Regions from separate parts of the Homo sapiens genome. Here regions 2 and 3 are each linked to region 1. The links come from fine-mapping of genetic effects on gene expression. A gene starts in region 1. Each other region holds a variant in brackets. All regions are shown on one strand. Distances are from middle to middle.

Region 1 (10,924 bases):
TGATTGAGGGGCGCCTTGCTGGGGAGGTTACCTTGCCCCCAGACTACAAAGTTCCCTAGCAGACACAGCAAAAGAAACAAGACCCGGAATGAAAGCTGCCAAGATGGCAGGGACTCCAGCTCCACGAAATTCAGAGGCTCATTAGCTTGGCAGAGAGATGGAAAGGGAATCGATTTTTAAAACCTCACACGCCACAAAGACTGCAATATGCCCTTTGTTCCTAAGTGGAGGAATGCTTAAGAAGGTTAGGAAGGACAAAAAGGACTTTAACACGGAAAAAATAAAGATATTTGCCAAAGGACTGCACTGAACTAGAGAAGCAGAGAAAAAAGCTCCGGGATGTCACCAGAAAGACATGGCCAGTCTGCCCACGAATGGCCCTCACTCACCACAGGAGCGGGGAAGTCAAGGGGGATTAAAGAGCTCCCCATTTAACCTCCAGGTTCCAAAAACCTCCCCCACTGTCTTCCAAGGGGATCCTTTTCAGCATGTTGTCAGGCAGCTTTTAGAAAGGTCTGTTTCAAGCAGAGGCACTCAACCCCAAATCCTCCTGCATCGGGCTGCTTGTGACCTGCCTGGAGGCCACCCAGCCCAGAACAGGAGCAGCCCGGACCCTGGCCTCTCTAATTTCCTTCCTAGCTACATTTCAACCTGCATTTCAATCTGAACCTACTGGACTTGCCCATCTTAAAACCAAACAGCAGAAGGCCTCCTCCCCTGTCCCACATCCTCTGCCAGTCACTTCTCTCTGCAGCCACACTCTGTGGAGGGCTGTCTACATTGGTTCTCGTACCTTTCCACACCTCATTCATTCCCCAAATGGCTCCCTTGCCGTGGCACCAAATCTGCTCTTGCAAAGGTCAACGGCATCCTGTTTGCTGGCCTCCTCTCCTGTCACTCACCTTCCCTGGGAAAGTGGTCTCTTCCCTTAGCTTCCAGGACATTCCGCATCTCGGGAACTCCTCCTTCCTTGGTCTTGCCTCCTCCTGGCCAGCTTCTCCTGGGCTTCCCTTGCCCCTGACACACCTGTGCTCCTAGGAGGCTGAGGCTCTCTGCCTCCCTCCCATGACTTGAGAGACACTCCTATTCTGCCTCCCACTTGCATTTCACATCAACGGCCTGCTAGGAGTTTGCCTCTTGGGACACTGCACAGACACAAATTCAATGGCCAAAACCTGCTCCCCACGCCCGGCCCTTAGTGAAGGCGCACCGCCACCACACAGCCAGAAATCTGGGCCTCATCCTCAGCTGCTCCTCCTTGTTGCATAGCCCTGCTGCCAGATACCAATCTTCCCAATTCCACCTCTGCTGCCCTCTTGGGGCTCCTCTCCAGGCCTGCCATGAACCTTGTTCAGGTTATCATCCCCTCTCACCTGGATCCCTCACACCGCTGGTCTCCCTGCGCTGGTGTCCACAATTGTTACTGATCTGTAAAAATAACTGATGCTGCTGCTTGATGCTCATGGCCCTGGTGATCAAGTACAAGTTCCTTACACAGCACACAAGCCCCCCCGCCAGGGGACATCCTGCCTCTGCGCTCCTTCCCAACGAACATGAACATTTTTTATTCTTCCCCAAGTGGAATCCCCAACCACCCTGGACCAAGCTCATCCATCGCATCTGAAAGACAAGACCATGGCAGCGAAGATCCTGACACTGGCGGTTTGGAAAATGAAAGACCACTTTCACCAGCCTCATCCTGAGCATCATGACCAACTACAGAAGTTGCCTTTAGTTCTGAACAGGACAACCCTTCCATCTCCGCTGCTCCAAATCTCTGCTTGGTGACTGCTCAACTGTTGAAAGCAGCAGCCAGCTGAAGCCAGACACCAGAGTGAGCTTTTTCTTAAAGAATCTAGAAACGTGAGTGCTTTGAACACCAAAAGGACAGCTACAGTCTTCCACTTTTTCCCTAAAAAAAAGGAAGTCTGGTGACCTGCCTAGAAGAACAGAAATCTGCAATTCCAGATTCACCCCTTGCTCCTGGATTGGCAAACAGCTCACCTACCAGCAGAGCCTGTCCCGGAGTAAGAACCACCTGCTAACGCCAAGCACACAGCATATGCACGCCAGGCACTGGCCAAAGTGCTTGATGAGTCTCCCCCCGCAGGTCTGTTTACCCACTCTTATCACTAACAGCAGAGGACTTTGCACCACAAGAGGCTGAGCAGCCTTCAGGGCCTGGGGGCAGGCAAGGGCAGGATGGAACCTACTCCGCTGATTCCAGGGTTGCAATGTTGGCCACCACACCAGGAGAACCACCCCTGCCTCAGGGGCTGCCTCTGGCAGCCCAGATGGGAGTACTTACCACCGCGAGGCTCTGTCTGGACCCAAACCCAGGCTCCCTCCCCAGGGCAGGGTGGCATGGCCATGTTCTAGGGACACAGCCAGGAGCACCCAAGAGTCTAAAAGAATAGAGCTGCCCACCCAAGCCTCCCACCCATTCCTGAGCTACAGCAGTAACAGTAACTTAGCACCCAGGCCTCCTGCAAGGAATGAGGGACGAGATTACACAGAAAGTGCCCATCAGCTCCTGGCACACGGCAGTGCTCAGTCAGGAGTAGCGGTCATTATCACAAAGCCTGGCTTCCTGCAACGACAGGCCAGGGGCTCTCAACAGACGGTGCCAGAAACATCCTGCCACAAATACCAGGGGGCTTTGCCACTTCTTGGCCTTACAGCTGGCAGCCTTTAGGGTCAAGTCCATCCAACACCCTGGGGTGCTCCCACCCTCACCCTACAGGAGTGCAGGTGTGAGAAGCATGGCTGTTAACCAAGGTCTGAGCACCAAACTCTGGGGAGCACCACTAAGGATGATGTTGGAGAGGACTGCAGAAGAAACCACACCTTCACATCCGGAGGGTACTGGTTTTACCTTCAATCTCCGAACTGCTCAGCTAAAACAGTGAAGGGAGGGATGAAAATGTGGAGTTAAGGGAGAACTTGAGACCTTAGGGTTAGAAAAGAAGAGGTGAGGCTGGGCGCGGTGGCTCACGCCTGTAATCCCAACACTTTGGGAGGCCAAGGTGGGAGGATCACTTGAGGTCAGGAGTTCGAGACCAGGCTGGGCAAAATAGTGAGACCCTGTCTCTACATAAAATTTTAAAAAACAGGAGATTAAAAAGCAAAAAAAAAAAAAAAAGGGCCGGGCACAGTGGCTCACGCCTGCAATCACAGCACTTTGGGAGGGCGAGGCAAGTGGATCACCTGGTCAGGAGTTCAAGACCAGCTTGGTCAACGTGGTGAAACCCCATCTTTACTAAAAATACAAAAATTAGCCCGGAATGGTGGGGTGCATCTGTAGTCCCAGCTACTCGAAGGCTGAGGCAGGAGAACTGCTTGAACCTGGGAGGCGAAAGTTGCAGTGATAAGAGATCGGCCACTGCACTCCAGCCTGCGCGACAGAGCTGGGAGAAAGGGAGACTAAGTCAGCATAAATGGAGTTACTTTTGGTGAAAGCAAAGTGTTAAGTTTCCCTGACTTTACCGCAGATAAGGGATTGACACCTAAATACCCTTATCTGCAGTAACGCCAGGGACCTTAAGAATGCTCTGAAGGAAACATTACAGGTCCAGTCAATTTGATATTACATGTGTGCACACAACAATATCCCAGATACCTGGAGACTACCATCTTTTCTATGTTCTTCTAGTTTCTATCCAAAAATTTGGACCTGCTACAAAGTCAAGCACACAGAAACACTCTGGGAGAGGGAAAGAGCTGGGGGATTAGAGGACAAGCGGACATACCCCTCCCTGCAAATGGGGGGGGGGGGCTATCCTGACGCGGGGGTTAAAGTGTTCGCTGTCTAAAGGATTCCTCCCACTCTGATCGATGGCCTTTAAGTATTTCAAAAGGTCATTCCAAGCTGCAAGGCCAATACCGTCTTGAAAAGGGACCTTAGAGGTCTCACTGCTCTCCACAGGGGTGGGACCCTTTCCAGAAGGCTTCCATAACTCTCCACCCCTTTTCAGGGAGAGGGCACTCGCACGGGCGTCCCCTGCACCATGCCCGGGCCGTTACCTCGCTTGAATTCCTCCAGGACAGCGTCCAGCTTGGTGTCGTTGAAGACGAAGTGGAGCGGATGGTTGTAGAAACGAGTGATGGTGCTGAGCGGCGTGCAGTCTTCGGGATCCACGAAGGCCAAGTCCTTGAGGTAGAGCATGTCCACGATGTTGGAGCGCTCCTCCTCGTACACCGGGATGCGCGTGTGGCCGCTCTGCATGATGCTGGCCAGGACGCCGAAGTCCAGCACGGTGCTGGCGTCCAGCATGAAGCAGTCTTCGAGGGGCGTGAGCACGTCCTCCACGGTCCGGCAGCGCAGCACGCCCTTGCTGAGATCGCTGTAGGGGTCGCCGCCGCCGCGCGCCAGCTCCAGCACCCGCTCCCGCAGCCGCCCGGGCCGCGCCGCCAGCTCCAGCAGCTGCCCCACGGGCAGCGCGACGGGCAGAGTGAGCAGGACGGCCAGGCGGCTGAGGCCGAGCGCTCGCGGCGCCAGCGCCAGCGTCCAGCGCCCGCTCACGGCGGCCGGCACCACCTCTCCCACCAGGAACACGAGCCCCGCGCTGCCCAACACGGCGGGCACCGCACGCTGGCCGGCCGCGCGGTACAGCAGCACCGCCAGCGCCGCCTGCGCCAGGCTGGCCAGCAGCAGCAGCGCGCCCAAGGCGCAGCCGGCCCAGCGCCGCGCGGGCTCCAAACGCCGCGCCGCCGCACGCTCCGCCTCCGAGCCGCTCTCGCGCAGCACCTGCACCTCGGCAGGCGCCAGCGCCAGCGCGCTCAGCTGCAGGCCTCGCGCCAGCGCTGCCAGCGCCAGCAGCCCGGCCGCCCCCAGGCCCAGAGCCCAGGGCGGCGCCGCCTCCTCAGCCGCCCCGCCACCCGGCTCCACGCGCACCGCCAGCAGCGCCGAGTGCGGGCGCACGGCCTCGGCCCGCAGGCGCAAGCGCAGCAGCGCGCGCCACTCGCCCGCGGGGGAGGCCGCCTCCTCCCGGCAGCCCGCCCCCTCCGGGGCCACCCAGGACCAAGAGCTGTTGGCGAAGCCCGGGCCGAAGAGGCGCAGGAGGAAGGTGGCGTCCGGCGTGTCCCGCGCCGCCCCTCCGCGTACCCAACCCGCGCCCGCCGCTCCATCCTCCTCCAGGCAGAAGCCCAGCACTCGCGGGCCCGGCGCGGCCTCCCCCGCGGCGTTGCCCAGGCAGAGCGCGGCGAACAACCAGCCTAACCGACCCGCCGCAGCTACCGCCGCCGCCATCGCCTGCTGCCCCCTCTCGGCCTCTCGCGCAGCCTACCCCGCTCGCCCCGCGCCTCCCCGGGCCAATCGTTACGGCTCTTCGCGCCTCCTCGGCCAATAGGCGGTGGGCGGGGGCGGGCCCCAGGGTCGGACTAGGCTGCGCCGGGGAGTAAACAAGTGGCGGCCAGGGGCGGGCCGGGGGCGTGGGGCTCCGGGCCCCGCCGAGTCTGCTGCGGCTCCGGATGCGCGGGGTGGCAGTGGCCGGGAGGACGCGGGGCGGCGGGCAGGGCCTCCCAAGCCCGGCTGTCCTCGGCCCGTGCGCGGCGCCCGGAGTCCCACTCCTCCCGATGCTGTCCCCCGCGCCCGGAGGCCGAGCCAATTCTCTGGGAAGTTCCCGGCTTGGGAGCGGAGCGGCCGGTCGGAAGAACCTCGGGTGCTGGCGCGCCTGAAGTTGCAGACCAGACTGAAATGTGCGAGACATGTGCCTTTTTCTTAGGAAAGGCCCCAGGTACCAGAAAGGTTTTCAGCGCGCCGACCTACGGGGCTAAGAGGGCTGAAATAAGAACCAGTGACTGAGCGCCGGGAGGTTTAAGGTTTATGGAAGATGTTCATCGCGCCGTACCCTACTAGAGGTTTGGGGACGTGGGACACAGCCCCTGCGTTCCCGCCGCGGACCCCGTGATAAATACACAGACACACAAAATCACTACCGCCTTGAATCTGGACAGCTACCTCAGGTGGTTAATATCTAACAGGAGCAGAGTGGAGCTCAGAAAGACTCAGCGTGGGTGCTGGGTTCCGGCGCGACCAGCCTGATACCTAGGTCAGCATCTCAGCCACACAAGCAGGCGGCAGTTCTGTCAGGAATTACTACATCTGGTGATTCCACTTCTCATAGCTCACCGCTGGGAGAATAATTCCTCAGGATTAACAAGATCTATTCCAGAGGATCCTCACTGCTGAAGCGATTTTAGAAGACAGTGTGGTCTGTTGACAGTATGGAATATTCTTTACCCATCAGATATGATCTGTATGTGATTGGAAGGAAATAAACCAACTGCTAACAACACTTCTCTATAGATGTTCAGATTCAGTAATTTTTGTATTTTTCTCTACACTTTTGTTTTTTCAAATTTCCTAGCACAAGAAGACTTTGACTTACTGCACATGTCATTTTAAATGACCTTTATAAAGACTCTATAGAAACAATTTGCTATGTCATGAAAGTAACAATCAAAAAAAGTATGCACATTGTGGCCACAAAGTAAAACTTGTGTGGAAGGTAATGTGCAAAAAAAAAAAAAAATGAGTAAGCTGGTGGTGAGTGACCAAAGGAAAAGGCTTTGTAAAAAACTTTTTTTTTTTTTTTTGAGACGGAGTCTCGCTCTGTCACCCAGGCTGGAGTGCAGTGACGCAGTCTCGGCTCACTGCAAGCTCCGCCTCCCGGGTTCACGCCATTCTCCTGCCTCAGCCTCTCCGAGTAGCTGGGACTACAGGCGCCCGCCACCACGCCCGGCTAATTTTTTTGTATTTTTAGTAGAGACGGGGTTTCACCGTGGTCTCGATCTCCTGACCTCGTGATCCACCCACCTTGGCCTCCCAAAGTGCTGGGATTACAAGCGTGAGCCACCGCGCCCGGCCTGTAAAAAACTTTTTAAAAGATGGTAATAGCTGGCCGGGCACGGTGGCTCACGCCTGTAATCCCAGCACTTTGGGAGGCGGAGGCGGGCGGATCACGAGGTCAGGAGATCGAGACCATCCGGACTAACATGGTGAAACCCCATCTGTACTAAAAATACAAAAAATTAGCCAGGTGTGGTGGCGTGCACCTGTAGTCCCAGCTACTCGGGAGGCTGAGGCAGGAGAATGGTGTGAACCCGGGAGGCGGAGCTTGCAGTGAGCTGAGACCACGCCACTGCACTCCAGCCTGGGCGACAGAGCAAGACTATGTCTCAAAAAAAAAAAAATGGTAATAGTGGCCCGGCGCGGTGGCTCATGCCTGTAATCCCAGCACTTTGGGAGGCTAAGGCGGGCACATCACGAGGTCAGAAGATGGAGACCATCCTGGCTAACACGGTGAAACCCCGTCTCTACGAAAAATACAAAAAATTAGCCGGGCTTGGTGGCGGGTGCCTGTAGTCCCAACTACTGAGGAGGCTGCGGCAGGAGAATCGCTTGAACCCGGGAGGCAGTCGGAGGTTGCAGTGAGCCAAGATCGCACCACTGCACTCCAGCCTGGGTGACAGAGCGAGACTCCATCTCAAAAAAAAAAAGGTAATAGTGTATTTTTAAAAGATGGTAATAGTGTCTCTTCTGCATTGTAAACTCAGAGCTGTGACTAGGCCAATGGGGCATCTCCGTGTTTTTTATTATTCAGGTGATGTTCTGTGCCCTTTGAGTTTACCTTACTTTTGCAGATTACAGAGTAAGCCGCCAGCAGAAGCAATAAAGACATTACTGGGCCTTTGCACTGCAACATCATGCCTCTGAAGAAAAAAAAAGTGCAAACATTACAATAGATTCAGCTCCTTTAGTTCTCACTTCTGTCTCCACGTCAAGATAAAATACTGACATTGAAATAGAATGGATGACATGCTTGAAATGAGTCATGTGCCTGAAAAGTCATTAACAAACAACAGTTCCAGAGAAAAGCCAGGAAAAACTCCCCATGGATTTAGAGACAGAGCTCTCACCTTCAACAGGTTACTTTTTCCTTGTCTCAGGCTTCCTTGGAAAACAACCTATAACTAACTTTCTGGGAGTAAAGCTTCAGGTGGAAGAACAATTGGATCAAACTTGGAAAACGTAAGTGGTCATTTAAATTGTCAGTACCCAAAGATACAAAAAAATCCAATATGGGGCACGCAAAGCTGCTCCTGGAGTGGTTTCCCTTTTGCAGTAGAGGCCTCAACAGTCCTTGACCAGCTTCTCCTGTGGCTGTGCCATTCTTTACCCCACCCCTGGTTAGCATCAGTGGAGACACAGCCACTTGACCTTCAGACCACTGTTGGCCCTCCCTGGGCCGTTTTCCTTACTGGTCTTTTGGATCAAGACATTTCCATGTTATATCTAAATATTTATTCTTGAGTTTTAAACCCACCGGCTAATTCCTGCTTCTCTCTCAAGCCTTAGCTCATATGCTGCTCCCTCCGAGTGATCTTCCTTGACCCTCGACTAGGTTGGCTCAAGGTTATTGGAGCTATGTGCTCTCCCCATATCATCCAGTACATCCCCTGTTGTAACATGTATTCATTTATTCATTCAACAAGTATTTCCTGCATTGAGTCCCTGCAGTGTAGCAGGTACTGTTCTAGTGTTGGGACTGTAGTGGGAATAAAATTAAGTCCCTACCCTTGTGAGGCTAGATTCTAGCGCAAGGACGATAGAAAATACCCAAGTCTATATTTCAATATTTGGTAGTAAGTGCTATGGAGGGAAAAAGGCAAGATAAAGAGACAGATGCTGGGGTGATGCTGATTGAGATGGGCTAATCGGAAGCCTTCTCAAGGAGATGGCATTTGAACTGAGGCTTAAATGAAATAAGGGGTGAGCCTCGCCAAGACTTAGGAGATGTGTCCCAGGTCAGGGAGACAGCAAATGGAAAAGCTGTGTGTGACTGTCCCCCTTGGGGTGGTGGGAAGGTTCTTCATTAAATTCACAGAGGGGTTGGTAGTACCTGGCGTGCGAAAGGGATTTAAACGTGTGGAACAGATGGATGAAGATAATTTACAAATCTTGCCCCAGACACAGACGTTGGCATGTGTACCTCTTTTATCTGGAATATCCTCTTTTCTTTGTTGCCTACATAGATGCCCCCAGTTTGTCTACTCCATTGAACTTTGCATGCTTGGAGCCCCTGGCCTCAGCACACTCAATCGCACAAGCCAGCCTGCAGCACCTGTACAGCACCATGGGAGTCCCCTGCAGAGCTGCAACTTTGAGAGTGGGTATAGTGACGTAACTCAGGTTCTTCAAGGGATGAACACTCCAACTTTGAAACCACTAGCCTGTAGGTGTGGACGAAAAGGCAGCTGCATGTTATAAAACAATATTACTCATACTTTTGGATCAAGCTTCTTTCAGTCCCATGGGTAGGGAGGAGGGGCAATTTGCTGAAGCCCACTGCCCTTCCAGTACTCACAAGCCAAGGGCCCTATGGGATCTGTTTCACAGGACTCATGCTTATGGCAGCTGAGCACATCTGTCCTGTATGTCTGCCAGCAGCCACGTCCCTCTCACTCCTGTGACGACAGCCTTGACTATATTTAGAAATTCCATTTCTGATTGCATTTCACTGCTGAATGGTCCTAGAATCCTTTATTGCCCTTGTCCCATCACAAGAGACAGCCAGCCACAGCCACTTTTATCTCAACAACATACTGAATACTGACAGAACAAACAGGCAAGTTGTAGATTCACCAGGATTTATACATATTTGATTTTTTATTACCAATCAAAAATAAATTCCATATATCGTTTAGCAAATATCATTGTTTTGTGACAAAAGACACAAGAGTCATAACAACAAAACTCCCCGAGAGTCAAACTCATAACGCCAAAATAAATCACAAAAATATACAAATTAAAATATTATGCAAAATAAATACGGCGGCTGTCACCTGCCTACCCATTTGGATGCCCTTTGCAAAGGTCTCCCTTACGTGGAAGACACAGTGGGTGGGCCAGTTCCAGGGTATGGCTCATCCCAGGAACCAGAGGTTGAAATAGGAAGGGAAAAATTGCACTGGGAAGAGGAAGTCATCAGACAAACAATATTTGGAAATAATGATGACCCTCTGTGAGAAGGGATGATCAATGGGCCAGGGAAGAGGAGGAGGGCCAGCCAGTTGGTGGTAACCGTGTGCACAGAGGTCACTGTGGAGGTGTGTGCACCTGCCCCTTTTGCTTCACATACCCCCACCAATGTCTTTTGCTCTACCTGGCAGTCAGGGCTGTCAGGAATATAGCTCTGCCAGCTTCCAAAAGGACTTGGGAGCAAGCTGCTCCTGTACAAGACTAAGGGCTTTCCCCCACTAGGGAACAAAAGTCTGGTGTCTTTTTTCCTTACAGTTGAGAACCCATGGGTGTCACCACCTTCTCTCCAGGCTTCCAGGAGTCAGTTCTATGGCTAGGAGACCTCAGACTGGCCAGGGGTAGGCATACTTGGTGCAAGACAATCCCTGGTCCTAAGAGTTAGGATACTCTAGGCACCTGGAGAGCAGGGCACTTGGGGTGAGGAAAGGAGTGAATAAATAATAATCAGGCGGAAGGCCTGCAGAGTTTCACCTGCCAGGCTCTCGGGACCCAGCTCCTGCTGCACCCAGTGGAAGGACCAACATGGACCTTGGTCCCACAGCCTCCCCAACCCTGGGAAGCCTGGAGTTTTGCAGCAGGGCCTGATTCAGCCCCAGGGAAGAGGCGCCAGGGCAGGAATTCACATGAGGGCAGAGCTCTTAGTACAGTACTACTAACTTCAGCAAGGGCAGGATGACCTCTCACGCTAGGATCACACGTGTGAGAAAGAGGGGCTGCAAGCTGCATGCCTTTAGGAGGAGCCCTCCTCTCCTGAGGTTCCATAAGTGGGTGGATAAGGCCAGGTGAGCCTTGCCAGCCACAGAGGAGAGGACATAAAGAACCTGCTTCCGTGGCTTCCCACATGTCCTCTTGTCTCCACCCCCAAGAGGGACTGAAGCTTGG
Region 2 (5,927 bases), 47 kb before region 1:
CTCGTGGATGTGGCCCACAGAGCCCTGCCCTTAAGCATCTCCTCATCACCTCTCTCTCTGTCCTTAGAACATGCTCACCTTCACTTTGGAGCATGGAGAGTTTGAAGATGGGAAGGGCAAGTGTCCCTATGACCCAGCTAAGGGCCATGCTGGCCTTCTTGTGGGTGAGTGGCTGCCCCCCATGCAGGCTGGGTGAGTCCTTGGGGCTTGGTTCCACTTGGGTCTGTGTTGGCCGGATGTGTCCATACCTCATGTGTGGCCTAGCTGACCTCTGTCTCCCATAGATGGTGAGCTGTACTCGGCCACACTCAACAACTTCCTGGGCACGGAACCCATTATCCTGCGTAACATGGGGCCCCACCACTCCATGAAGACAGAGTACCTGGCCTTTTGGCTCAACGGTGAGCCACCGGGGGGCCTGTGGGAGCCATGGGTGGGAGGTCCCCCGGGGCCCAGCCCCTCCCTGCTGACCTCCTCCCCTTCCCACAGAACCTCACTTTGTAGGCTCTGCCTATGTACCTGAGAGTGTGGGCAGCTTCACGGGGGACGACGACAAGGTCTACTTCTTCTTCAGGGAGCGGGCAGTGGAGTCCGACTGCTATGCCGAGCAGGTGGTGGCTCGTGTGGCCCGTGTCTGCAAGGTACCGAGTCTCACAGCGGTGGGCCCTGGGAGCCCTGCTGGCCCAGCGGGGCTGACCGGCAGTGTCCCCTTGCCGTCTGCCAGGGCGATATGGGGGGCGCACGGACCCTGCAGAGGAAGTGGACCACGTTCCTGAAGGCGCGGCTGGCATGCTCTGCCCCGAACTGGCAGCTCTACTTCAACCAGCTGCAGGCGATGCACACCCTGCAGGACACCTCCTGGCACAACACCACCTTCTTTGGGGTTTTTCAAGCACAGTGGTGAGTTGGCCAGGGCTCCCACAGAGTGGGGAGGAGCTGGGGTTCAGGTCAGGGACGGTGCATGGGTGGGAGCCTGGACCAGGCCTCAGAGGCAGTCCCGGAAGCCAGGTGTCCAGAAGCCAAGGAGAATGCTGGCACCTGCCCCTTTCAGAGCTGCCTGTGAAGGGGCAGGGCCCCATGCCAGGTGGCACTTGAGCTGCCAGGGCATTCTGGTACCCATGGCCAGTTTGTGCCAGGCCCTGCCTTCCTGCTGCTTGCCCTTAGCTGGGGTGGGAAGAGATAAGGTGGGTACCTGACCCTGGGCTCCCTCTCGCTGTGACAGGGGTGACATGTACCTGTCGGCCATCTGTGAGTACCAGTTGGAAGAGATCCAGCGGGTGTTTGAGGGCCCCTATAAGGAGTACCATGAGGAAGCCCAGAAGTGGGACCGCTACACTGACCCTGTACCCAGCCCTCGGCCTGGCTCGGTGAGTGCTAGGGCAGGGATGCATCTCCCCACCCAGCTGCGGTGCCATCCCACCCTGCTGATGGCCTGCCCCCCACACCCTGCCCCCAGTGCATTAACAACTGGCATCGGCGCCACGGCTACACCAGCTCCCTGGAGCTACCCGACAACATCCTCAACTTCGTCAAGAAGCACCCGCTGATGGAGGAGCAGGTGGGGCCTCGGTGGAGCCGCCCCCTGCTCGTGAAGAAGGGCACCAACTTCACCCACCTGGTGGCCGACCGGGTTACAGGACTTGATGGAGCCACCTATACAGTGCTGTTCATTGGCACAGGTGGGTGCATGGGTATGCAGGCATGGCTGCTCAAGGCTGGGCAGAAGCCCGTGTGCCCAGGGCAGGGAGATTTGGAGCTGCCCCACGGCCTTGTGCCCTCTCATTTACACCTTCTCCTCTGCACCCCCCAGGAGACGGCTGGCTGCTCAAGGCTGTGAGCCTGGGGCCCTGGGTTCACCTGATTGAGGAGCTGCAGCTGTTTGACCAGGAGCCCATGAGAAGCCTGGTGCTATCTCAGAGCAAGGTAGTAAGTTGGGCCCTATCTGCCACTGTCCCCAGCACTATCCCATCTCACTCTCTCCATCTGGCTGCTTCTCCCAGTTGGGCCTATGTGCTTGGCCAGTGCAGAGTTAGGAACACACACACATGTGGATGCACACCTTGCCTAACTTGGGGTGGGTTCCTGGAAACGAGAATGAAAACAGAATGGAATCTGCACTGCACAGGGCCATTATATATAGCCAGGTCACGGGGCTGCGCTCCCAGCATCAAGCCTTGGCAACTGCTCCCATGTTTCTTTCAGACCCTCCAAGCTGTGCTGTGGTTCTGGCTCTGGCCTCTTCCCTGACCATGCCCCTGTGACCAGACCTCCCAGGCTGTGAGATGTTTATGATGCCCTCACCATGGTGGTTTTCCTTCCAGCCCCCATTTCCGTGACTGTTTCCCTGAAGTGCTTGCATTATACCCTTGTGCAATACTCTTTTTGGTTTTTTTTTGAGATGGAGTCTCACTCTGTCACCCAGGCTAGAGTGCAGTGACGCGATCTCAGCTCACTGCAACCTCCACCTCCCAGGTTGAAGCTATTCTTATGCCTCAGCCTCCTGAGTAGCTGGGATTACAGGTGCCTGCCACTATGCCCAGCTAAAGGTTTTTTGTTTTTGTTTTTGTTTTCTTTGAGATGGAGTCTCACTCTGTCGCCCAGGCTGGAGTGCGGTGGCATGATCTCTGCTCACTGCAACCTCCACCTCCCGGGTTCAAGCAATTCTGCCTCGGCCTCCCAAGTAACTGGGACTACAGGCACGTGCCACCATGCCCAGCTAATTTTTTTTTTTTTTTTTTTTTTTGAGATGGAGTCTCGCTCTGTCACCCAGGCTGGAGTGCAGTGGCGCAATCTCGGCTCACTGCAAGCTCTGCCTCCCAGGTTCACACCATTCTCCTGCCTCAGCCTTCCATGTAGCTGGGACTACAGGCTCCCATCACCACGCCTGGCTAATTTTTTGTATTTTTAGTAGAGACGGGGTTTCACCGTGTTAGCCAGGATGGTCTCGATCTCCTGACCTTGCGATCCGCCCGACTCAGCCTCCCAAAGTGCTGGGATTACAGGCGTGAGCCACTGCGCCTGGCCAGCCGGCTAATTTTTGTATTTTTAGTAGAGACAAGGTTTTACCATGTTGGCCAGGCTGGTCTTGAACTCCTAACCTCAAGTGATTTGCCCACCTCAGCCTCCCAAAGTGCTGGGATTCCAGGCATGACCTGCTGTTCCTAGTTGCCTTGTGCAATACTCTTGTGGCATGTTTGCTACACCTCCTGAACTTTGATTTGTTTGCCTTTTACCAGCTATTA[T/C]GACTCAAAATTGTCCCCTAGAACATGGAATAATGGCAGAAAGAAAGTGTGTGGTTGAATAAACACACAGATTGGCATCCACCGTTGAAACAGGAAAACATCTTATGTTATGCTGCTGCTGTTGTGAGGGCTGATGGGCCTTGAAATGTATTTCCTGCACTATGTGTGTGTGAGTGTGTGTGATTATACTTTTTGGCCTCACAGCCCCATCATCCCTTTCTAATAACGTCACGTCGATAAGGGGCTTAGGATTGCATCTGGCCTGTGTAAGCCCTCTGAGTTCTGCGGTTCTTAGAGTTCCCTTTTCAGCACTATAGCTCTGCCTTGTTCCCTTGTTCCTCCTTCTGGCGCCCCGTGCTGTGCCCCCTGCAGGAGTCCAAGCTGTCCCCATGCTGCGTTCTGGTCCGGCCGCCCCTCCCGTGGTGTGGCCCTGGCCGACCCCCCTCCTGCGCCCCGCTTTTCTCGCAGAAGCTGCTCTTTGCCGGCTCCCGCTCTCAGCTGGTGCAGCTGCCCGTGGCCGACTGCATGAAGTATCGCTCCTGTGCAGACTGTGTCCTCGCCCGGGACCCCTATTGCGCCTGGAGCGTCAACACCAGCCGCTGTGTGGCCGTGGGTGGCCACTCTGGGTGAGTTGGGCTCTACATAGGCCAGGACCTCCAGGGACTCAGGGTGGTTGGAGCCAGGCTGCTGATGTACCCTACATCCCCTACCAGATCTCTACTGATCCAGCATGTGATGACCTCGGACACTTCAGGCATCTGCAACCTCCGTGGCAGTAAGAAAGGTGAGCTTTTTCATTCCCGTCGCATCGGGCTGAGCCCTGGACCAGAGCTGGAGTTTCTGTTCTCCTCTTCCCCAGCCCTGCTTTCCTGCACTAACATGCACTCTGTTTTCTCTGCCACTACAGTCAGGCCCACTCCCAAAAACATCACGGTGGTGGCGGGCACAGACCTGGTGCTGCCCTGCCACCTCTCCTCCAACTTGGCCCATGCCCGCTGGACCTTTGGGGGCCGGGACCTGCCTGCGGAACAGCCCGGGTCCTTCCTCTACGATGCCCGGCTCCAGGCCCTGGTTGTGATGGCTGCCCAGCCCCGCCATGCCGGGGCCTACCACTGCTTTTCAGAGGAGCAGGGGGCGCGGCTGGCTGCTGAAGGCTACCTTGTGGCTGTCGTGGCAGGCCCGTCGGTGACCTTGGAGGCCCGGGCCCCCCTGGAAAACCTGGGGCTGGTGTGGCTGGCGGTGGTGGCCCTGGGGGCTGTGTGCCTGGTGCTGCTGCTGCTGGTGCTGTCATTGCGCCGGCGGCTGCGGGAAGAGCTGGAGAAAGGGGCCAAGGCTACTGAGAGGACCTTGGTGTACCCCCTGGAGCTGCCCAAGGAGCCCACCAGTCCCCCCTTCCGGCCCTGTCCTGAACCAGATGAGAAACTTTGGGATCCTGTCGGTTACTACTATTCAGATGGCTCCCTTAAGATAGTACCTGGGCATGCCCGGTGCCAGCCCGGTGGGGGGCCCCCTTCGCCACCTCCAGGCATCCCAGGCCAGCCTCTGCCTTCTCCAACTCGGCTTCACCTGGGGGGTGGGCGGAACTCAAATGCCAATGGTTACGTGCGCTTACAACTAGGAGGGGAGGACCGGGGAGGGCTCGGGCACCCCCTGCCTGAGCTCGCGGATGAACTGAGACGCAAACTGCAGCAACGCCAGCCACTGCCCGACTCCAACCCCGAGGAGTCATCAGTATGAGGGGAACCCCCACCGCGTCGGCGGGAAGCGTGGGAGGTGTAGCTCCTACTTTTGCACAGGCACCAGCTACCTCAGGGACATGGCACGGGCACCTGCTCTGTCTGGGACAGATACTGCCCAGCACCCACCCGGCCATGAGGACCTGCTCTGCTCAGCACGGGCACTGCCACTTGGTGTGGCTCACCAGGGCACCAGCCTCGCAGAAGGCATCTTCCTCCTCTCTGTGAATCACAGACACGCGGGACCCCAGCCGCCAAAACTTTTCAAGGCAGAAGTTTCAAGATGTGTGTTTGTCTGTATTTGCACATGTGTTTGTGTGTGTGTGTATGTGTGTGTGCACGCGCGTGCGCGCTTGTGGCATAGCCTTCCTGTTTCTGTCAAGTCTTCCCTTGGCCTGGGTCCTCCTGGTGAGTCATTGGAGCTATGAAGGGGAAGGGGTCGTATCACTTTGTCTCTCCTACCCCCACTGCCCCGAGTGTCGGGCAGCGATGTACATATGGAGGTGGGGTGGACAGGGTGCTGTGCCCCTTCAGAGGGAGTGCAGGGCTTGGGGTGGGCCTAGTCCTGCTCCTAGGGCTGTGAATGTTTTCAGGGTGGGGGGAGGGAGATGGAGCCTCCTGTGTGTTTGGGGGGAAGGGTGGGTGGGGCCTCCCACTTGGCCCCGGGGTTCAGTGGTATTTTATACTTGCCTTCTTCCTGTACAGGGCTGGGAAAGGCTGTGTGAGGGGAGAGAAGGGAGAGGGTGGGCCTGCTGTGGACAATGGCATACTCTCTTCCAGCCCTAGGAGGAGGGCTCCTAACAGTGTAACTTATTGTGTCCCCGCGTATTTATTTGTTGTAAATATTTGAGTATTTTTATATTGACAAATAAAATGGAGAAAATGAAACGATTGCTCTGATGGGGCTAAGATGTTTGGGCTAAAGCCTTTCTGGGTACCAAGAGGGAAG
Region 3 (10,924 bases), 25 kb after region 1:
AGGTGTGCTCCACCATGCCTGGCTAACTCTTTTATTTTTTGTAGAGATGGATCTCGCTATGTTGCTCAAGCTGGTCTCAAACTCCTGGGCTCAAGCAGTCCTCCCATCTCAGCCTCCCAAAGTGCTGGGAATACAGGAATGAGCCACCACGCCAGGCCAGGACTACTTGTTTAAATCGGATAAAAATGGCAATGCTGGGAGCAATGGCTCACATCTGTAATCCCAGCACCTTGGACGGGCTGAAGCGGGCAGATTGCTTGAGGCCAGGAGTTTGAGACCAGCCTGGCCAACACGGTAAAACCCCATCTCTACTAAAAATACAAAAATCAGCTAGGTGTGGTAGTACACACCTGTAGTCCCAGCTACTCGGAAGGCTGAGGCAGGAGAATTGCTTGAACCCGGGAGGCAGAGGTTGCAGTGAGCCGAGATCACGCCACTGCACTCCAGCCTGGGCAACAGAGCAAGACTCTGTCTCAAAAAAAAAAAAAAAAAAAAAAAAAAAAAAAGACCCTGTCTGGTATCACTTATCAGGGGCTTCTGGAACTCTTGGGGAGGGGAAAGACCCAAACTGACAAGGGCACAGAGAGGCCGAGCACTGTGATTAGGTGGGGCAGAGACTACAATTAGAGAGGGGCCACCCCCTCAACCCAAAGTGAGGGAAGGAGGCTGGCATGGGGCAGGACCCTCCACAGAAACCCTGTGGGGTGGTGGGTCTTCCCAGACCCCTTTTTGAAGGCCACACCCTGTTCTTATGGCCCCAGCCCCATGAGTGGCAAGAGGGTCCAGCCAAGAAGGGCTAGGTCCACAGTCTAGGTGGAATGAGTCCTGTGTGCCATACCCCACTCGCAGGAACACAGGTTTGGAGCAGCCTAGGAAGAAAGGCCCCCGGAAATCTGGGAAGGTCAAGTCAGGGTCTTCTGCATGGCTTCCCCTTCACAATCCAAGGGCCTCGCTCTAGGGACTAAAGAACTCATCCTAAATACCCTCGGTGGAGGATGTTTTCCAGGTCTTTAAGGCCACAGAAAATCCCCCAGCCCAAGATGGGCTGTTAAGAACTTCTAAGGGCCTCTTAGGGAGAGCAGAGAGAATGTGAGGTCTCATGACTAAAGTAAAAATTCTCACAATACACCCCATGTGATGGGGGGGGGGGTACTGCATTGTGAAAGTTTTTCACACACATGCCAGGGGCTATGATATATGTATTTCCCACTACAGGTTCTGGTCAAAAAACATTTAGCGTCTTGCTAGACAAAGCCATGGCTGGACTCGATTGAAAATACCCCAGTATCTTCCTAGAGATGAGCCAACAAGTTCAAGAGATCTGTGAGGCCCTCCAGCAGGGCGGCAGCGGGCCAGGCCGGGACCCTGGGGTCCGCCCCCAGGCCTCTGTGCCTGCTGGAGGCTGTCCATACAGGAGTGCCCTCCAGAAAGACAGTGCCTGGAAGGGCCTGGGCATCTAGCTAAACCATGTCACCACATGGGGATGGGAATTAAAGCAAGGCAGCTTTGACAGGCTGAGTATCCCTTATTCCTCACTGGGGATCAGAAGTGTTTCAGATTTCAGATTTTTTTGGATTTTGGAATATTTGCAGAATACACGCCATTGGGCATCCCAAATCTGAAAATCTGAACTACAAAATGCTCCAATGAGCATTTCTTTTGAGCATCATGTTGGTACTCAAAAAGTTTTGGATTTTGGAGCATTTGGGATTTTGGATTTTTGGATTCGGGATGCCCAACCTGTACCCCCTTCCAGATGGGCACCCTCTAAAAAGCCTGGTAATGCCCAGTTATGGTGGAGGATGGGGAAGACAAACAGGCCCTCACATGTATCTGGTTGGTGGCCAGGTAAAAGGGTACATTTCAGGGGGCCAGTTGGTCAGGATGTCACAAAATCAAGGGTTCCTAACCTTGGACTTAGAAGGTCCACTTCTAGGAACTCACCCTAGGGAGAGGCAACCTTCACAAAAGACACAAGAGAAGGGGGCTCTTGGCAACATTCTTTTTAACAGCCCCAAACCAGAAACAACCTAAAGCAATAGCAATAGGGCACAGGGACTCAAAAGGGGCCACAGCTACTCAAGGGAGAACACGGCAGAGGTGGATGAATAAAGCGCGGAACGAAATCCAAGATACGCTATTAGTGAAAGAGCAAGTCACGGAACAGAATGCATGGAGCCATCTGCCTTCACAGAAACAAAGGCGTGTGTGGGCTTGAACTGCCCTGGAAGCGTCCAGAAGTAGTAAGAGTGGTCACCTTTGGGGGTATTTGGAGTTTGGGGAGGAGGCTATTTTGCCTCTCTATATACCCTTCTATACTGTTATATTTGATGGGCATGTTTTACTTTTATAATTTAAAAACAAAACTGAGACAAAATTAAGGGGGAAAACAAAATTAAGGAGAACAAAGGGAAACTGGTGAGAGTCTCTAGGGTGGACAAGGGCCCTCTGTGCTTTTTACTGCCACAGATCGAGCCCCAGGGAATGGGGGTGTGTTCTTTGACAAGGTTCAGTGAGCAGAACCTTGTTCAGACCCCCAAAGTCAGAAAACAACCTCTCCACTACATTCACATCCCTAATTACTCCACAGGCTCAGACCAAATCCTGACCAACGAAAGGTTCCCTCACAGTGAAAGGCTGCTGGCCTCTCTCTGTTTTTATTTTTTTTGAGACAGACTCTCACTGTGTAGCCTAGGCTGGAGTGGCCCAGGCTGGAGTACAGTGGTACAATCTCAGCTCACTGCAACCTTCACCTCCCAGGTTCAAGCGATTCTCCTGCCTCAGCCTCCTGAGTAGCTGGGTGTGCGCCACCATACCCAGCTAATTTTGCATTTTTAGTAGAGACGGGGTTTCGCCAGGTTGGCCAGGCTGGTCTCGAACTCCTGACCTCAAGTGATCATTCTGCCTTGGCCTCCCAGGGTGCTGGGATTACAGATGTCAGCCACCGCGCCCGGCCTGGCAGCCTCTCTTATAGTGGAAACAGCCCTCCTGCGGATGAAATGAGCTGATTCCCTGAGCAGGGTCTTGATACCATTCTCCGCCCCCCGCCTCCTCTCTGAGACCCCTTGGCGGGATCCACTGCTGTGTGTGTGCACCCTCGGGTGGCAGCCAGCTGCATGACAGGCACCTTGTAGGTGTACAGCCCTGAGCACCATGTACACGTTCACCCCTCCTCTGCAAGCTGAGCTTTGGGCACTGCCTGATGGCTGGCCAACTGGGGTTCCGTACAGAGGTTCCAGCCTAAGGGGCCAGTCAGTCACCCTCTGCAGGGTGAGCTTTGGGCCCCTGGGCTGTTTTTCCTATTTTCTAATTTGTCTGTCCAGAGGGGACATCTTTTTGTCCTGGTAGAATTTTCCCCTCCCCGGGCCAGAGAGCCTCTGGTCAAGGTCACCAATGACCTTTCATGGTGGAGTGTTATTCTCAGATGACCTGCTGACCAACGGTGACTCCCTCCTTTCCCCTGGAAGCCCTTTCTGCCCAGGGCTTCCAGGGCACAGCCCTCCCAGTGCTCCTGACCTCAGGAGTCACTGCTTCTCCCTGACCACTTAAATGCTGGAGAGACTCAGAACTCAGTCTGTACACCTGGTCCCTTGCCTAGCAACTTTAAATACAAGTGTACAAGTGTCCCAAATAAATCTCTGCAGCCCTGTCCTCTCCCGTGCCCTCCAGATTCCTCTATCCAAGTGCTGCCTGACGTCACTAATACCTTGAAATTAACGCAGCCAAAACCCAGCTCATGCCCATCCCCCCAACACTCCTGTCTCCCTTTAGGGCAGCTCTGTCCCAGTTATCAGGCCCATGGGACGGTGAGCCTGACCTCCTCTCTTTTTTTTTTGAGATGTAGTCTTGCTCTGTCGCCAGGCTGGAGTACAGTGGCGCGATCTCAGCTCACTGCAACCTCCACCTAGCAGGTTCAAGGGATTCTCCTGCCTCAGCCTGCCAAGTAGCTGGGATTACAGGCGCCCGCCACCACACCCAGCTAATTTTTTGTATTTTTAGTAGAGATGGGGTTTCACCATGTTGGTCAGGCTGGTCACGAACTCCTGACCTCAGGTGATCCACCCTCCTCGGCCTCCCAGAGTGCTGGGATTACAGGTGTGAGCCACCGTGACCAGTCCCTCCTGTCTTTCTTTGTGCCTCTACATCCATTTAGCAGGAGGAGAAAAGTAACCAGTGAGGGGAAGGGGAGCGGGGAAGGGGAAGGGAGGCCGAAGATGGAAAGAATTATTTTAGATTTTACTAATTTAGAAGTTTCTATACTTCGGAAATTATTGCTAACTGATTTAACATCTAAAATAAGCAGATCAATTTAGGGCTTATATTTAGGATTCTCATTGTATAAATTCTAATAAAATTGTATTTTTGTGTGTGTGTGGTTTTTTTTTTTTTTTTGAGCTGGAGTCTCACTCTGTCACCCAGGCTGGAGTGC[A/C]GTGGCGTGATCTCAGCTCACTGCAATCTCCACCTCACAGGTTCCAGTGATTCTCCCACCTCAGTCTGCCTGATTACAGGCACCTGCCACCACACTCGGCTAATTTTTTGTATTTTTAGTAGAGATGGGGTTTCACCATGTTGGCCAGGCTACTCTCCTGCTCCTGATCTCAAGTGTTCAGCCCACCTCGGCCTCCCAAAGTGCTGAGATTTCAGGCGCAGAATTGCTTGAACCCAGGAGGTGGAGGTTGTAGTGAGGCAAGATCATGCCACTGCACTCCAGCCTGGGCAACAGAGCGAGTGACTCCATCTCAAAGAAAAAAAGAAATTAATACTATTGATTATGAAAAATTTGGAATTTTTTATATAGGAAAATATAAAAAGAAAACAGAAAATAGAAACCATCCTGAATCCCCCATATGTAGATTAAGCCACATGAATTGCTGGTTTTGGTAAAATATAATTGAATATCAGCAATTTTATATGGCTCAAGCAAATACTAACATTTTGCTATATTTCCTCAGTCATTTTTCATTGACTAAGGACTACTTTGAAAAATGTGGATTTTTAGCTGTAGATGTATTGTTTTAATTTCCATGTTTCTTTCTTTTTTTTTTTTTTGAGACGGAGTCTTTCTCTTTTGCCCAGGCTCAAGTGCAGTGGATTCTTCTGCCTCAGCCTCCTGACTAGCTGGGATTACAGGCGCCCGCCACCACACCCAGCTAATTTTTTGTATTTTTAGTAGAGACGGAATTTCACCATGTTGGCCAGGCTGGTCTCGAGCTCCTGACCTCAGGTGATCCACCCACCTCAGCCTCCCTAAGTGCCGGGATTACAGGCATGAGCCACTGTACCCAGCCGATGCCACCCCCAAAATCTAATCAGCCAATTGAATGGACACCAATAATAACATAAGGTAGCTCATTAAAATACAATTTTACGGGCTGGGCGCTGTGGCTTACACCTGAAATCCCAGCACTTTGGGAGGCCATGGCAGGTGGATCACCAGCCTCCTGAGTAGCTGGGACTATAGGCATGCACCACCATGCCTGGCTAATTTTTGTATTTTAATTTTTTTTTTTTTTTTTTTGAGACAGAGTCTCACTCTGTTGTTCAGGCTGGAGTGCAGTGGTGCGATCTCAGCTTACTGCAACCTCCATCTCCCCGGATCAAGCAATTATCCTCTCTCAGCCTCCCGAGTAGCTGGGACTACAGGCACAGGCCACCATGCCCAGCTAATTTTTGTATTTTTAATAGAGACAGGGTTTCACCATACTGGCCAGGCTGGTCTCGAACTTCTGACCTCAGGTGATCCACCCGCCTCAACCTCCCAAAGTGCTGGGATTACAGACATGAGCCACTGTGCCCAGCTGGATTTTTGTATTTTTAGTAGAGATGAGATTTTATCATGTTCCCTAGGCTGGTCTCTAACTCCCAACCTCAAGTGATCCATCCGCCCACCTCGGCCTCCCAAAGTGCTGGGATTACAAGGGTGAGCCACCATGCCCAGCCAATAGTATTAATCTCATAATGAGAAAAAAAAAACACATCCATTAGGCCGGGCGCGGTGGCTCATGCCTGTAATCCCAGCACTTTGGGAGGCCGAGGCAGGCGGATCACCTGAGGTGGGGAGTTTGAGACCAGCCTGACCAACATGGAGAAACTCCATCTCTACTAAAAATACAAAATTAGCCAAGCATGGTGGCACATGCTTGTAATCCCAACTACTCGGGAGGCTGAGGCAGGAGAATCGCTTGAATCTGGGAGGTGGAGGTTGCAGTGCGCCGAGATCGTGCCATTGCACTCCAGCCTGGGCAACAAGAGTTAAACTCTGTCTCAAAAAAACAAATAAATAAACAAACAAAAAAACACATCCATCAAATTAACTTTAAAAAAAAATTCTAGGCCGGGTGCGGTGGCTCACGCCTGTAATCTCAGCACTTTGGGAGACCGAGGCGCGTGGATCACGAGGTCAGGAGATCGAGACCATCCTGGCTAACACGGTGAAACCCCATCTCTACTAAAAATACAAAAAATTAGCCGGGTGAGGTGGTGGACGCCTGTAGTCCCAGCTACTTGGGAGGCTGAGGCAGGAGAATGGCGTGAACCCGGGAGGCGGAGCCTGCAGTGAGCCGAGATCACGCCACTGCACTCCAGCCTGGGCAACAGCAAGACTCCGTCTCAAAAAAAAAAAAAAAAAAAAAAATTCTAGCCCGGGTGTGTTGGCTCACGCCTGTAATCCCAGCATTTTGGAGGGCCGGGGGCGGGGGGTGGGTGGATCACGAGGTCAGGAGTTCAAGACCAGCCTGACCAACATGGTGAAACACCGTCTCTACTAAAAATACAAAAATTAGCCAGGCGTGGTGGCGCGGGCCTGTAATCCCAGCTACTCAGGAGGCTGAGGCAGGAGAATCACTTGAACCTAGGAGGCGGAGGTTGCAGTGAGCCGAGATCGCACCACTGTACTCCAGCCTGGGCGACACAGACTCTGTCTCAAAAAAAAAAAAAATTAACTAATAAAATAAAATAAAATTCTAATACCGCTTCCTCTGGGACTTCAGGGTTCCTGAGCCTCCCCAAGCCCTTTCCAAGCACTGCAAGAAAGGGGGTCCAGAAAGAAGGTTCCTGGCACCCTGGCTGTCCCCACTGTCTTCTCCAGGCTTTGCCTGGCGGCATGCTTGCCCACTCTGCCCTCCAGCGACCTCTGTCCAGCAGCAGCCAGGTGGGACCGTGCCCTCCACAGTCAAAGAACACCATGTGAGGCCTCCAGAAACCCCGGAGGGCTGGGCAGACCACAGGTGCCAGCCTCAGCCTCCCTCACAGCTGGCACAAGGGCAAGGAGGATCCCAGCCCTGCCTGAGTCCCTCACAGCTCCTCCTGCTCCCCAGCCTCCGTGTCACCTCTTTATCCTTCTGCCCTGGGCTCAAACGTTAGCCCTGGGTGTTAGCCATGTTGTCTTTTAGGGCCCTGGATCCCGACCCATTTCTTCCCTTCACAGCTCTGTGCCATCGGCTGACCGGCGTCTATCTCCCACTGACCAGGCTGCAGCCTGGCGAGGCCTGAGTAGTGCCCTCGCTCCTCGCCATGCTACCCCAACCCCTCCCACTATGCCTAGCACAGCAGGTGCTCCACACCCCTGCTGGATACAGAAAGGATGGCCCCACCCTGCACAATGCCCATTTTAGCAAACTGCTGCGTCCTCCTTCCCCGCCCTCCATAAAAAAAGACTTTACAGCCCCTTGAAGTCCTTAAGAAAACCGTATTATAGGTGCTGGGTTACAAAGTCCACAGGGGCCATGAGAGGGCCCTACTCACCAGCTCCAGCTGCTTTTTCTCATGGGGAAAAGCCAGGGGCCCCAGAGCAGACCAGGGACTCCCACCACCCAAGAAGGAGTCCTCTGCATCTTACTCAATGAGTCTCCCAGGAAGGTCCAGCCTCTGAGATCCCAGGGGCCCAGGATGTTCCCGCGCTCTCAGGCCCTCCCATGGGAGAGGTGCGGGCTGGACTGACTGGAAGCCACAGGCTTGGGCCCTGGGTCCACACCTGCAGATAGCTGAGCACCCTGATTTCTTGGCGATTCTCTGCTCTTTCCTCCCTTCACCCAAGCTCCCGCAGGATTAAGCTGGCTATTAATAGTGCTGACCTCAACCACCGGGATGAGTGGCAGCCAGCCCAGCAAGAAGGCAGAGCCAGGGCAGGAGAGGAACCAGCCAGAGTGACAAGCCCCTGCCCTCTAGCCTCGGGGAGGGCAGCTGGGTTCATCCATAATCCTAAACAGGGCTCATCTATGTTGCTCCCTTCCTCCCAGAGACACAGCTGGCAGTCAGGGCAGTCAGTCCAGGCAAAGGCCAGAAGACCAGAAGGCTGCGGTGGCCCAGCAGGCAGGCCATACACTCTATACTCGCTAGACTCTGAGACAGAGTGAGACCCTGTCTCCAGAAAAAAAAAAAAAAAAAGATTACAGCGATTAAAACAGTGTAGTACTGGGCAGGGCACTGTGGCTCATGCCTGTAATCCCAGCACTTTGGGAGGCCAAAATGGGCGGATCACTTGAGGTCAGGAGTTCAAGACCAGCCTGGCCAACATGGTGAAGCCCCATCTCTACTAAAAATACAAAAATCAGTTAGGCATGGTGGCACAGGCCTGTAATCCCAGCTACTCAGCAGGCTGAGGCAGGAGAATCACTTGAACCTGGGAGGCTAAAGTTGTAGTGAGTTGAGATTGCACTACTGCACTCCAGCCTGGGCAACACAGCGAGACTCTGTCTCAAAAACAAGCAAACAAAACAAAAACAGTGCGGTACTGGAGAGAACAATGGACAGAAATATTTATTTTACTTCAATTTTTTTTAGACAGGGTCTCATTCTGTCACCCAGGCTGCAGTACAGTGGCACAATCACAGCTCACTGCAACTTTGACTTCCTGGGCTCAAGTGAACCTCCTACCTCAGCCTCCCAAGTAGCTGGGACTATAGGGCATGCCACTAAGCTCAGCTAATTTTTAAAAAAAATTTTGTAGAGATGAGGTTTCACTATGCTGCCCAGGCTGATCTCGAACTCCTGGGCTCAAGCGATCCTCCCACCATGGCCTCCCCAAATGCTGGGACTGTAGGCGTGAGTCACCATGCCTGGCTTATGGACAGAAATAAACTCCAACAAATTGGGAATACTGTATATAATAAATCTGGTATATTAAATTGCAGGAGAAAAGAGAGATTATTCAATGAAAGTTACTGGGCTAACTGGTCCAAAGTCACTGTTTTATACCAGACTTATAAATCCCTAAGAAAAACCACTAGCTTAATTTTAAATAGAAATACAATAAATACAAACAAAATATAAGGAAATACAAATTTTCAAAATGAACTCATTTTTTACCTATCATATTAGTCAAGATTTCAGAGATTGGTACTCTCAGTGTTGGCAGGAGAACTACCCACCGTTGGAAGTTCAATTTTTACTTCAGAAATTTGGCAGTATGTGCCAAAATGTAAAATATGCAAGACCTTGGACTCTGCCATTTCTCCCAACCCTAGGAAGTGACCTTAATACAAAGGAAACACCCAGGCCAGCATGCAAGGTGTGCCCAGGAGGGCCTGCCAATGTTATTTGTAACAATATTGCAGGGCTCTTAAAAAGGCTGACTCAGACATGAATTTATCTCAAGAGACGGTGATTCACTATTTGTGTAAAGTAAAAAGTTCCAAAACAGTAGAGTAGGAAGGACTGCTGGTTTCCTTCACTTTTGCTTAATGCATTTTATACTTCACATGCTATTTTTTATTTTTACTCTTCTAATTAGACACTATTTTCATATTGGGGGAGAAGCAATATCATTTGTTGCTGACTTGGTAGAAGAAAATACACCAAAATATCCACATTTTGGATGATGGGATAAGAGTGACTTTTTTTTTTTTTTTTTTTTTTTTTTGAGACAGAGTCTTGCTCTGTTACCCAGGATGGAGTGCAGTGGTGCGATCCCAGCTCACTGCAACCTCCGCTTCCCAAGTTCAAGCCATTCTCATGCCTCGGCCTCCCAAATAGCTGGGATTACAGGTGCCTGCCACCACGCTGAGCTAATTTTTTGTATTTTTTAGTAGACGGGGTTTCACCATGTTGGCCAGGTTGGTCTGGAACTCCTGACCTCAAGTGATCTGCCCACCTGGGCCTCCCAAAGTGCTGGGATTACAGGCATGAGCCACCGTACCTGGCCATGTGACTTTCATTTCTTAATCATTTTCCACTTTTCTAAGTTTCTCTAATACACTACTTTTTAAGAACTTTTTTTTTTTTTTTGAGACAGAGTCTTGCTCTGCCACCCAGGCTGGAGTGCAATAGCACGATCTTGGCTCACTGCAGCCTCTGCCTCCCAGGTTCAAGCAATTCTCCTGCCTCATCTCGAGTAGCTGGGATTACAGGAGCATGCCACCATTCCTGGCTAATTTTTGTGTTTTTAGTAGAGACGGGGTTTCGCCATGTTGGCCACGCTGGTTTCAAACTCCCTACCTCAGGTGATCCACCCACCTCAGCTTCCCAAAGTGCTGGGATTACAGACGTGAGCTGCCGCGCCAGGCCTATCTTTACTTTTTAAAAATTATTTTTATCTTTTTTTTTTCTTTATTTGAGACAGAGTCTCACTCTGTTGCCCAGGCTGGAGTGCAGTGGCGTGATCTCAGCTCATTGCAAGCTCCACCTCCTGGGTTCACACCATTCTCCTGCCTCAGCCTCCTGAGTAGCTGAGACTATAGGCGCCCGCCACCATGCCCGGCTAATTTTTTGTATTTTTAGTAGAGATGGGGTTTCACCATGTTAGCTAGGATGGTCTGGATCTCCTGACCTCGTGATCCACCGCTTCAGCCTCCCAAAGTGCGTGAGCCACTGCGCCTGGCATTTTTATCTTTTTTTAGAGACAGGGTCTCTCTCTGTTGCCCAGGCTGGACAACAGTGGTACAATCATAGCTCACTGCAGCCTAGAGTTCCTGGGCTCAAATAATCC

Alleles and levels. Alleles are on the strand shown, and positions count from the first base shown. SD is a standard deviation of normalised expression in the study named. Not every link is listed here.
With allele C in place of T in region 2, the expression in sun-exposed skin of the gene that starts at base 5,258 in region 1 is higher (moderate effect, 0.47 SD a copy in GTEx).

The links. PIP is the estimated chance that this variant, and not a neighbour inherited with it, causes the effect. A credible set is the group of variants that fine-mapping cannot tell apart.
Region 2: its variant is the best candidate, but not a certain one, in a credible set for the expression of CNNM3 in sun-exposed skin (GTEx, PIP 0.55).
Region 3: its variant is the best candidate, but not a certain one, in a credible set for the expression of CNNM3 in whole blood (TOPMed, PIP 0.60).

Annotation. Positions count from the first base shown.
Region 1 is chr2:96,810,602-96,821,525 of GRCh38, reverse strand. It overlaps CNNM3 (cyclin and CBS domain divalent metal cation transport mediator 3), which reads right to left and starts at 5,258. Exons shown (of 8, transcript NM_017623.5): 1 at 4,024-5,258. The coding sequence starts at 5,248. It overlaps CNNM4 (cyclin and CBS domain divalent metal cation transport mediator 4), which reads right to left. Exons shown (of 7, transcript NM_020184.4): 7 at 9,652-10,924. It overlaps CNNM3-DT (CNNM3 divergent transcript), which reads left to right and starts at 7,869. Exons shown (of 2, transcript NR_149141.1): 1 at 7,869-8,032; 2 at 9,037-9,287. RefSeq lists silencers at 4,402-4,511, 4,522-4,661, 4,672-5,651 and an enhancer at 5,992-6,111.
Region 2 is chr2:96,859,678-96,865,604 of GRCh38, reverse strand. SEMA4C (semaphorin 4C) reads left to right here. Exons shown (of 15, transcript NM_017789.5): 6 at 68-164; 7 at 285-401; 8 at 490-641; 9 at 725-900; 10 at 1,223-1,367; 11 at 1,457-1,679; 12 at 1,811-1,923; 13 at 3,711-3,868; 14 at 3,956-4,026; 15 at 4,150-5,887. The coding sequence ends at 4,979. Among named protein-coding and RNA genes, the nearest start is that of ANKRD39, 4.6 kb to the right of the region's middle. The variant T/C (reference allele first, on the strand shown) is at 3,243.
Region 3 is chr2:96,785,714-96,796,637 of GRCh38, reverse strand. The region is part of intron 1 of CNNM4 (cyclin and CBS domain divalent metal cation transport mediator 4); the gene reads right to left. Among named protein-coding and RNA genes, the nearest start is that of MIR3127, 7.1 kb to the left of the region's middle. The variant A/C (reference allele first, on the strand shown) is at 4,430.